Regions from separate parts of the Homo sapiens genome. Here region 1 is linked to region 2. Evidence: fine-mapped expression QTL. A gene starts in region 2. The other region holds a variant in brackets. All regions are shown on one strand. Distances are between the middles of the regions.

Region 1 (5,379 bases), 75 kb after region 2:
AGAGATAAGCAAGCTGGAAGTTTGCACAGGTGAATGCCGGCCGCTGTGCCAACAGAAAAGGGCTGCCTGAGGGCCAGGCATGTTCAACATGGAGGCTCCATCTTCCCTTTTCTTAGTCACCACGTGCACAGTAAAGAACCAGGCAATATGGCAATGGCCAAGTAAAAAACCCATCCGCATAATAAAAGATTAGGGTGGGGCAGCCAGCTTCTTTGAGTGCTATGCAAATGGCATACCTGGTCCAACCAATCTTTCGAGCCCTGTGTAAATCAGACACCGCCTCCTCAAGCTTATCTATAAAACTTCCTGCATTTCACTGTGGAAGTGGCAATCCATTTTCCCCAGGACCCCTCTCTGCACAGAGAGCTCTTCTCTTTCTTTCGCCTATTAAACCTCCGCTTTTAACCTTACTTCTTGTGTGTCCACATCCTTGATTTCCTTGGCATGAGGCAGCAAACCTCAGGTATTACCTTAGATGAATGATGCTGCTTCAGTAAGAAGAGGTTGGATTCTGGAGATATTTGAAGGTAGAGCAGATAGGACTTACCTATATTTACATAGATATAAGGAAATATATATATATAGAGAGAGATATATATATAGAAATATATATATTTCTATATATCTACATATAGAAAAAAATATATATTTCTATATATCTATATATATATTTCTATATATCTATATATAAAAAATATATATTTCTATATATCTATATATATAGAATAAGACTTACCTTATTTCTATAGATATATAGAAAATAAAATATGAGTAAAAAATAGGAATTTAGAAAGGTTCCTAAGTTTTCAGCTTGACCTGCTGGGTGAATGGAGTTGCCATCTACCAAGACACCGCTAACAGAGGAGCAGTTTTGGCATGGTAATCAAAAGTTTCTTTTAAGGCTGTCACGTTTGAAAAGCTAGACCTCCAGATGGACATGTGGATTACACAGTTGGGTATATGAGTTTGGAGTCCAAGGGAAGAGGTTTAAGCTAGATAAATACATTTGGAAGTCATTAGCACATAGGTGGTGTTTAAACCAAATTATCTGGACGATATCACTTGGGGACAGAAGTCAGGAGAAGGAGAAGGATCTAGCAAATGTGTTTGAGGAGACATTAATGAGGTAGAAGGAAAACCAAGAAGTAGGATGCCTTGGAGGGCAAGTGAAGAAAGCGTTTTAACACAAGAGACTGATCGAGGTCACTGCTCACCTTGACGAGCAGTCTCAGCGGGGTAACAAAGATGATATCTTTATTAGAGCGGACACCAGAAAGAATGAGAGGTGAGGAAATAGAGGCAGCAAGTGCAAACCATGAAATTTTGCTATAAAGGGAAGTGGTAGCTGGGGGAAAGGATGTGGGTTCAGGAGAAGGTTTTTTCCTTTTTTTTTAAATGATGGGAGGCATTTTGAACTGGAAAGAAGCCAACTGGGACTTGGGTGTGATCTGAAGAAGAGAAGATGGCCTGTACCATAGTCTGAGAGTTAAATGGCACCTTTATTGATTATTGATATAATACCCTATGGCTTGCTTATAGTACAGTTACACCTGTGTTGTGTGATAGGGAGCCTTGCCAGTGGAAGCAAATTGGTCTAAGATAGAAGCTTGGTTTTGACTTGATAGCTGCCCATAAGAGGGCAGCAGAGCAGAGCTAGGAAATTAAAAACAACAACAACAATAATAACAACAACAAAGAAAAACTCTGCAAGGTGATCCCTGCAGGGTAAAGACTTTTTAGCAAACTCTTTAAAGATATTAAAGAAAGTTCAGCCCTTCCTCCCCAGAGCCTCAGTGCTAGATTCTTGCTTAGAGACCCCAAAGGCTCCAGACTTGGGAATACAACTGGTAACATGGCAGACTATGAGCCCTGCAGGGGAGGGAGCAACTGTAAAGCTGATTGAGTGTAAAAGAATGGCTAGTACAGAAGGAAGATGTAGCTGTTATATCGAAGCATTAAAAACAAACAAACAACAAACTAGGCCAGGTGGGGGCCGGGCACAGTGGCTCACGCCTGTAATCCCAGCACTTTGGGAGGCTGAGGTGGGAGGATCACTTGAGGCCAGGAGTTTGAGACCGACCTGAGCAACATAGCAAGACCCTGTTTCTAAAAAAAAAAAAAAAAAAAAAAAAAAATTTACAAGCTGATTGTGATGGCACACACCTGTAGTCTCAGCTACTTGGGAGTCTGAGGCAGGAGGATCACTTGAGCCCAGGAACTCCAGGTTACAGTGAGCAATGATCATGCCACTGCTCTCCAGCTTGGGTGATAAAGCGAGACCCTATCCCTCTCTAAAAAACAAGACAAAACAATAACAATAAAACAAATTAGTCTGGACCATTGTCATTATGAACAGACTATTTTT[T/C]CAAAGTAATCACTGCAATTTACTATCATTCCATAAAAGCCATTGATGCTGAATTCCAATGTGTGTGGCTAAATTTTACCAAAAAAACCTAGTATAGAAGGACTTAATTTATGCTGGGAGGAAGGGAGACACTCATGCTGAGATTGGACCTTTAATGTGAATATTCACAGCAGGTAATATGTACATAGTGCTTTATAGTTTACAAAATATTTTACATTTTTTGGTCCTTTTTAGTTGTGATAATTACTGAGACCCTTGAGCAAGTATCATTGATATTTTTCTCATTTTCATTTTTCTGATTTAAAAAGGCTTAGAGAAAGGTTATCTGACTTTTCCAATACCACACAGCAAAGGAATAGCTAAGCTATTCCTTCAGGCTCAGAACTTTTGTCACCATAGCATTAGATCTACATAAAGAGATGGGGATGGAGAATGTGTAAAAAGGCATCACGTTTAGGTTGAATGAAAAGCCAGAGAGTAGTTAAGTTTGGTGGTAAACAGAAGATGAAAGGAGGTAGTGAAGAACTGTCTTCTATTAATATTATTATTATGATTTTTTTAAGAGATAGAATCTTGATCTGTTACCCAGGCTCTGTGGAATGCACTAGTATGATCATAGCTCTCTGCATCCTTGAACTCCAAGGCTCAAGCAATCCTCTTGCCTCAAACTCCTGAGTAGCTGGGACTACAGGCACATATCACCACACCCAGCTGATTAAAAAAAATTTTTTTTGTAGAAACAAAGTCTTGCTATGTTGCCCAGGCTGGTCTCGAATTCCTGGCCTCAAGTGATCCTAGCACCTCGGCCTCCTAAAGTATTGGGATTACAGGCATGAGCCAACGTACCTGGCCTTATATTATTTTTAAACTTATTTATATAGAAGAATCAAATTTACTCTGTGCAACTTTGGAGAGTTGACTAGGACAGGAGAGCCCACTCAATATTAGAAAAAGAGCTCTACAAAAAAGACATTGTTACGTTACATTCCTGAAATGTTGAAATAGGGGCTAGAGGAATATTTGACAAAGCTGTAGAGAGAAATAGTTGACCTTATGACCTCTAAAATTCTTTTCAAGATATTTTATCTGCAAAAACCTGAATAGCAACAACTATAGTTCCACAACACTCTAGTTCTACAGAAGGAGGGTGGGATGTTACACTGTGCTTTCATGTTTCAATAATTATATATCTATCCATGCATGTCCACTTCTGCTTGATGCCACTGAAGTGGGACCTGAGGAGCTGGGGTGCTAGGGCAGAAAGAGTAAGGTCTGTGCCCGATCCTAGACAAAAGTGGAAGCAATTCACTGCTTCATCCATCACGGAAGGGCAACTCTTTAGCTTAGCAAACTGAGAAATTTTCAGGCTCAACACCAGCAGGAATTCAATTTGCAGCAAGATAGACCTCAGGGGATTGAGGCAATGATTCAGAGAGGATGGGTGGGGTAGGGTTACACAGGAACTTTAGAGAAAGAATCGTTTGTGGGTGGAAGCCTTGGGCAGAGGTGCACTCAGTAGAGAAGAAAGCCATTTGTTCCAGAACAGCAGTTTGAAAGGGGTGTGTTTTGTGTGGGCAATGGTGTATGAGGAAAGGGTTTGTGGGGAAGAAGCGTGTGGGGCTACTAACAGGCACAGAAACACTTGTTGAGAAATGTTGTTCATAGGGGGATTGCTTTGCTGGGGCCCAGGAGCAGGTGGTTTGGTGCAGTGAAAGAGGCCAGAGGGGCAGAAAGAAGGGTCCTAGCTGTGGCCTTAAACACACACATACACACACACACACACACACACACCAAAAAGCAAGGAAGAACCCCTTATCCTCTCAGCCAAGATAAGCAAGCGCTGTTACCAGCTAGGTGTGCTTACTATGGATTTTATACATTTTAGAGAAAATTTCTAATGCCCATTTGTCCTGAACTTTTTACTTGGAATATCGTTAAGTTTACGGAAAAGTAGAAAGGATCATGTAATGAACACTAGTGTACCTCTCACCTAAACCATCAATAGTCAATAATCTGCTACATACATTTGTTTTCTCCTGAGCCATTTGAAAGTAAATTGCTGCAGACAATTTGCCTATCAGTCCATTTTTGAATATATTGGCACGCATCTCTAAGAATAAGGACATTCTCTTACATAATAGCATTGCCATTATGAAGATCTTACCTATGAAGATCCACATTAATTCATAAGATCTGCATGTGTGTTACTTATCAGTACGTCTTATAATGGATTCTGAATGCTTTCCCTTTTCTTATTTCTCTAGCTGTCATCTTTGAAGGTAAAACCTCGACTGCATATCTGGCCAGCCAGGCCAGGCCAAAGTACCTGTATACTGGGTGAGGGGATAAGAAAGACTCTCTCAAAGAGCACAGGAACCTGGAAGCCTGTCAGAGGTCACCTCTCACGGAAGCCCAGGACGCTTCCTTCCTGCTGAGCTAATCTTAACTGCTGACCTCCACGCATTGCTCAGGGCTCCCTCCCTCCCTTCTTCCCTATTTCCTTCCTTCCCTTTCCTCTCCTTTCCTGTCTCTTTCACCAAACCTTAACGGACAACTCTTCTGTGCTAACTTCTGTGCCAGTGTATTAGTCCGTTTTCATGTTGCTGATAAAGACATATCAGAGACTGGGAAGAAAAGGTGGTTTAATTTGACTTACAGTTCCACATGGCTGGGGAGGTCTCACAATCATGGCAGAGGGTGAAAGGCACTTCTTACTTGGAGGAGGCAAGAGGGAATGAGGAAGATGCAAAAGTGGAAACCCCTGATAAAACCATCAGATCTCGTGAGACTTATTCACTACCACGACCAAACCATATCAGCCAGTATCTGCCATCCCAAGTGAACTTAGTCTGTGAACTCAAAATAGTGCTGGCCAGGCATGGTGGCTCACGTCTGTAATCCCAGCGCTTTGGGCGGCCAAGGCGGGGGGATCATGAGGTCAGGAGATCGAGACCATCCTGGCTGACATGGCGAAACCCTGTCTCCACTAAAATACAAAAAAATTAGCAGGGCAT
Region 2 (5,379 bases):
TTCAAGTAATTCTCCTGCCTCAGCCCCCCAAGTAGCTGGGATTACAAGTGCCTGCCACCACACCCAGCTAATTTTTGTATTTGTAGTAGAGACAGGGTTTCACCATGTTCATCAGGATGGTCTCAATCTCCCGACCTCATGATCCACCCACCTCAGCCTCCCAAAGTGCTAGGATTACAGGCGTGAGCCACCGCACCCAGCCTAATTGTTTCTCTTTACTGAAATACAACTCCTTAAGGTAAGGGCTCCTTTGTCTTGCTCCCCTCTGCATCTTCAGCATCATACACAAAACCCGACTTCCGGTCACCTCCCAGCATCATCTCTCACTAACACCCCGATCTAACCCTCAGCACTCTAAGCTTCAATCATACAAATTTTATTTAGCTTATTAATTGCCAAGGTATCTCTTGACTACGGGCCTGTGCACAGGCAGATCCCTGGAACACTCTTTCTTCTACCAATACCACCCCTCCTTTACAAGGCCAAATGCTACTTTCCTCTCACTCTACAGACTTCAGTTTCATCAACTCCTCCAAAAAGCCTGTGCTGACACCAAGCCCCAGTCTGATTTAGGTGGCCTTCTCCTTGTTTTCACAACACCCATATGTCCCCTATCATAGAGCACATCACCTGTTTGTCTTTCTTCCCAATAGACCATTAAGTTCCTGAGGAGAGAGACCCTTTTAGCCTTGTTCCCACAATTGCTGGTCAGCGGGATTCAGAGGCTTTTGAGAATCTGGTAAAAGCTATGGAGCTTTTTCACAGAAAAAAAAAAAGTATATACTGTTTTGTGCTCAATTTTCAGAGTGTCTATGAAGCCCATTTATGGACCTCCCAGGATCTCCATAAACTGAAAATTAGAAACCTCTGCCTAACAGAATGCTTGAATTATACCATCAGGAACCTATTTTCTGGCTGGGTGTGGTGGCTCACACCTGTAATCCTAGCATTTTGGGAGGCTGAGGTGGGAGAATCACTTGAGGTCAGGAGTTCAAGACCAGCCTGGGCAACATAGTGAGACCTCTATTTAAAAAAAAAAAGGAATGTATTTTCTTACTTATTTGGACAAAGGCTAATCTCTCATTCATATGTAAATATTTTGGGAATAATATTGTTAAGTCAACCACCTAAACTTAGTGTGAAAAAGCTTAGGGACAAAAGTACAGAACACTTCCAAGAAGACCTGAATGACTAACAATCCAGGGCCAAAAAGGACAACAATATCTCACTGGACGTCAGTGTGACAAACACGTAAAAAATGATGGCTTCTGTGCCCAATACACTTTGCTCATGTCGTTGCCCTATATAAGCCCCCAAGGAAAGGAGTGGGGAAACTCAGAATTGACTCAGATTTTTTTTAAAAGAGATCTCAAGCCAAAAATAAACAGAAAAATAAGGACAGTTTATTTGAGCAACATAGTGAGACTGTCCTATCCTTAAAAGGACAGTCTCACTATTTTGCTCATTTTATTGTTTTGCACCCTGGAGTTTTTGAAAGGAGATTCGGCTGAACCACAAATGGAAAGTTAAAGTTCCGTCCCCACTTCCATCTCTAGTTCCCTTCTCTGGAAGTAAACATTGCTCACAGTTTTATACTAACAGTTTCACAGTTTCTATGCATATGCAAATACATGCCTTCACCATCACCACTGCTTTTGCTTTTGCTTTACACAAACAGGATCATAAGTTAGATGCTATTCTGCACTTAGTATATCTCAGAGACCTTGCCCTGTTAACACATTAATACCCACCTCACTCTTTCCTTTTTTTTTTTTTTTTTTTTTTGAGGCGGAGTCTGGCTCTGTTGTTCAGCTCACTGCAATCTCTGCCTGCCGAGTTCAAGCGATTCTCCTGCCTTAGCCTTCCGAGTAACTGGGATTACAGGCGCCCACCACCATGCCCGGCTAATTTTTTTGTATTTTCAGTAGAGAGGGTTTTCACCATGTTGGTCAGGCTGGTCTCAAACTCCTGACCTCAGGTGATCCCCAACCTCCGCCTCCCAAAGTGCTGGGATTACAGGCGTGAACCACCGCGCCCGGCCTCCACCTCACTCTTCAAGTGGCTGTATGGTAGTCTAGCACATTTAAGCACAGTCTGGGTTTCTATTATCACAAACGGTTCTCATACTACCATTTGTTGGTGACAGCCACTGTCCCCTTTCGATGGGCACACAGGGCAAGGAAGTAAGAGGGGATGATTCTTACGTGGTCTCTCTTCCTGTCCCTCCCTCTCCTTCAGCCTTCTCCTCCTCCTTTCTCACCTCCCCTTTCACGCAGTATACACTCCCTCCCCTTCCCGGAGCCGCCGGGAGGAGCAGGGTGGATGCACCCCTAGCTGAGTCTCGGGTGGTTCCTAACCGGCCCCGCCAGGCACTTCCCACCCAGCTCTCAGCCTCAGAGCCCAGCGCCCTAGACCCAGGGCCAGGGCAAGTTCTGCCTGCGCTCGGACCCTACCTTAGACTGGGGCTGGAAACCCTGGGTGCCTGACCTGGGGCGTCCGATTCCCGCAGCAGGAAGCAGAAACTTCGCTCTGGATTCTGCCGGTGGGAAGGGTGGCAGCCGGGGGAGGAGCCGGATGCGGATCTGAGAAGAGACGGTGCGGGCGGAGACTCTCGGGCCCGGGCGGGGCGCAGCAGCTGCTGGAAGGGCAGCGAGCCGAGGGCCGGGCAAGACGACATGCCAGGGCTGCGACGCGAATGCCCAGGACCCCTGCCGCCTTTTCTGGGGCCCGAGTTTAGTTTGTTATTGTTTCTATTTTTTTTCCCTTTCTGGTCCTATTTTCTCCTGTCCCTAGGGCTTCCCCCTCTACCAAATTCGTCTCCTCTGGCTAATTTTCGTCTTTTTTTCTCCCATTAACTCTTCAAACACCGTTTCCTGGAAAAGATTTTAGCATGCTCGCTGCCTAGCTGTACACCTCTCCTTCCTAATATCAAAGACGGTCAGACTCAATTCATCCTAAAGTTCCTTTGAGGAACTCCTTAAAAGGAGACGGAAAGCGGAAAGCAACCGCCTGTAACCAAGTGTAGACATCAGTCAATCAAAGTTCGCTGAACTGAGAGCAAGTGCCTCCCCTCCTGTTGATCAGAAGAGAGATCCGTGGATCACACAGAATCTATCTGGAGCCATCCTGAATGATTAATGCTGAACCCTTTCCAGGAAGATGGAACCAGGCTTAGGAAAGAGACAAGTGACCCTTAGGTTAATAATCCTAGCTTCATAAAGAGAGGACCAAACATAGTAGCAGGAGAAATATGCTTTCTGCCTTTATATAAAGCAGATTAGCTGTCTTCTGGAAAATATCATTGCTTTCCTTAGAGAGGTACCCTTGAGTCTCAGGTAACAGCTGAGCTTCCGCTCAGAATTGAGGGCATTCTGTCCTCTATTAACTGAGCCAGTACCCCTTTCCTTCCTTAGAAACCTCTATTGCCACCAGTCCCAACACTCCCTGCAATGGTCTTTATGTTTGTGTCTCCCCAAAATTTATATATTGAAACCCTAATCCCAATGCGATGGTATTTAGGGTGGGATCTCTGGGAGGTCATTAGGTCATGGAGTTTAGAATACTCATAAATGGGATTGGTGGCCTCATAAGGAGAGACGGAAGAGCTAGCTAGCTCTTTTTCCACGATATGAGGATACAAGAAAACAGCCATCTGCAATCCCAAGGAAGACCCTCATCTTCAGAGGCAGACCATGCTGGCAATCTGATCTTGGACTTCCATTCTCTAGAACTGTGAGAAATAATATTTGTTGTTTAAGCCACCCGGTCTACGGTAATTTGTTATAGCAACCTGAACTAAAACATTTCCTTTTTATAACAAATATTTTAAAGCTCTTTTTATTTTTCTGAAACATAATTCGTAAAGAATGTAACTTACCCCCACGCACAATTTTAAACCAAAATTTAAAGACAAAAAGTAGAGACAGGGTTTTGCTATGTTGCCCAGGCTCTCTACCTCCAGGGCTCAAATAGTCCTCCTACCTTGGCCTCCCAAAGTGCTTGGATTACAGGCATAAGCCACCATGCCTGGCCAAAAAATTAGTAAAATCTCTTAAAGAGATATAAAGGAGTCTACGGCCATACCACCCCGAACGCGCCCGATCTCCTCTGATCTTGGAAGCTGAGCAGGGTTGGGCTTGGTTAGTACTTGGATGGGAGATAAAAGGAATACTAGAAAGAATATGACTTATAATTAAATACTATATGTTTAGATATGTAAATGTTTGTGTATAACATTCAAGAAGACACAATGTGGTACTCAGATATATGCATCTGTATATAAAATCACCTGGAATGTAACAGCTACAAATGCAGAATGATACAGGCATTATAATGGCGATTCAAATACCATGAACAGAATTACTGATGTGGTATGATTTTCCAGAATACTAAATAGCTTTTGGCAGATTTTCAAACAAAACAAGGTATGATCATCCCATGATTTTCATGGTAGTTGCATCCCTGGAAAGTTCAGTGTGTATTAAAACTACGCATAAAATGCCTTGTGTTTATATTTAAAATTAAATTATGGTCAGGCACGGTGGCTCACGCCTGTAATCCCAGCACTTTGGGAGGCCAAGGTGGGCAGATTACCTGAGGTCAGGAGTTTGAGACCAGCCTGGCCAACATGGTGAAACCTTGTCTCCACCAAAAATACAAAAATTAGCCGGGCATGGTGGTGGCCGCCTGTAATCCCAGCTACTTGGGAGACTGAGGCAGGAGAATGGCTTGAACCCAGGAGGTGGAGGTTGCAGGGAGCCGAGACCACACCACTGCACTCCAGCCTGGGTGACAAGAGCAAAACTCCGACTCAAAAAAAAAATAAAAAAATTAAGTTAGATCCTAATTAAAACAAGTTTTCAGCTACATGAATGACTGGCAAGTTATTCAAAGTTAAAGATGCGGAAATGTCACTCATTGTGTGGTAGTGTCCTAAACAGTTCCTGAATGTTGAGCTATCCTGGGCCCTACCCATTTAAATGTGTAAAATCATCCTAATTATTGTGAAAGCCAAAAACACCCCCTAGAGGGCAGTACCACTCACATCGAAAACCTTCATTAGTGGTCTGTTTAGAGGAGAAAGAGAGGAGTTTGGTGAGGGAACACAAGAGCTAGGAAACCTGAAAGAAAGGGTTACGTGAGGTGACTACAGTGGGAGCATATTGAGGAGAAGGAAGTGAGGGGAGGGATTGAAGGAGTCCACACAGGGCCTTTCTTCTGAAGGCCAGCTTTATAAGGCCTCTTCCCCATAGAATATGCCTTAGATAATAATCCCAACCTCAAGACCTCGTAGTCTGTGACTCTCTGTGGGAAACACCTGCCCCACCAGTGAAAGAACAGCATATGCAAGCCCTTCCATCATATTCCCATAAATATCAG

Evidence for each region. PIP is the estimated chance that this variant, and not a neighbour inherited with it, causes the effect.
Region 1: its variant is fine-mapped to the expression of TEP1 in whole blood (TOPMed, PIP 0.97).

Annotation. Positions count from the first base shown.
Region 1 is chr14:20,485,920-20,491,298 of GRCh38, forward strand. No RefSeq gene overlaps it. Among named protein-coding and RNA genes, the nearest start is that of RNASE10, 17 kb to the right of the region's middle. The variant T/C (reference allele first, on the strand shown) is at 2,366.
Region 2 is chr14:20,410,918-20,416,296 of GRCh38, forward strand. TEP1 (telomerase associated protein 1) reads right to left here and starts at 2,584. Exons shown (of 55, transcript NM_007110.5): 1 at 2,488-2,584. It also overlaps the pseudogene RNA5SP382. RefSeq lists enhancers at 1,422-2,338, 1,448-1,617, 2,168-2,237, 2,738-2,787.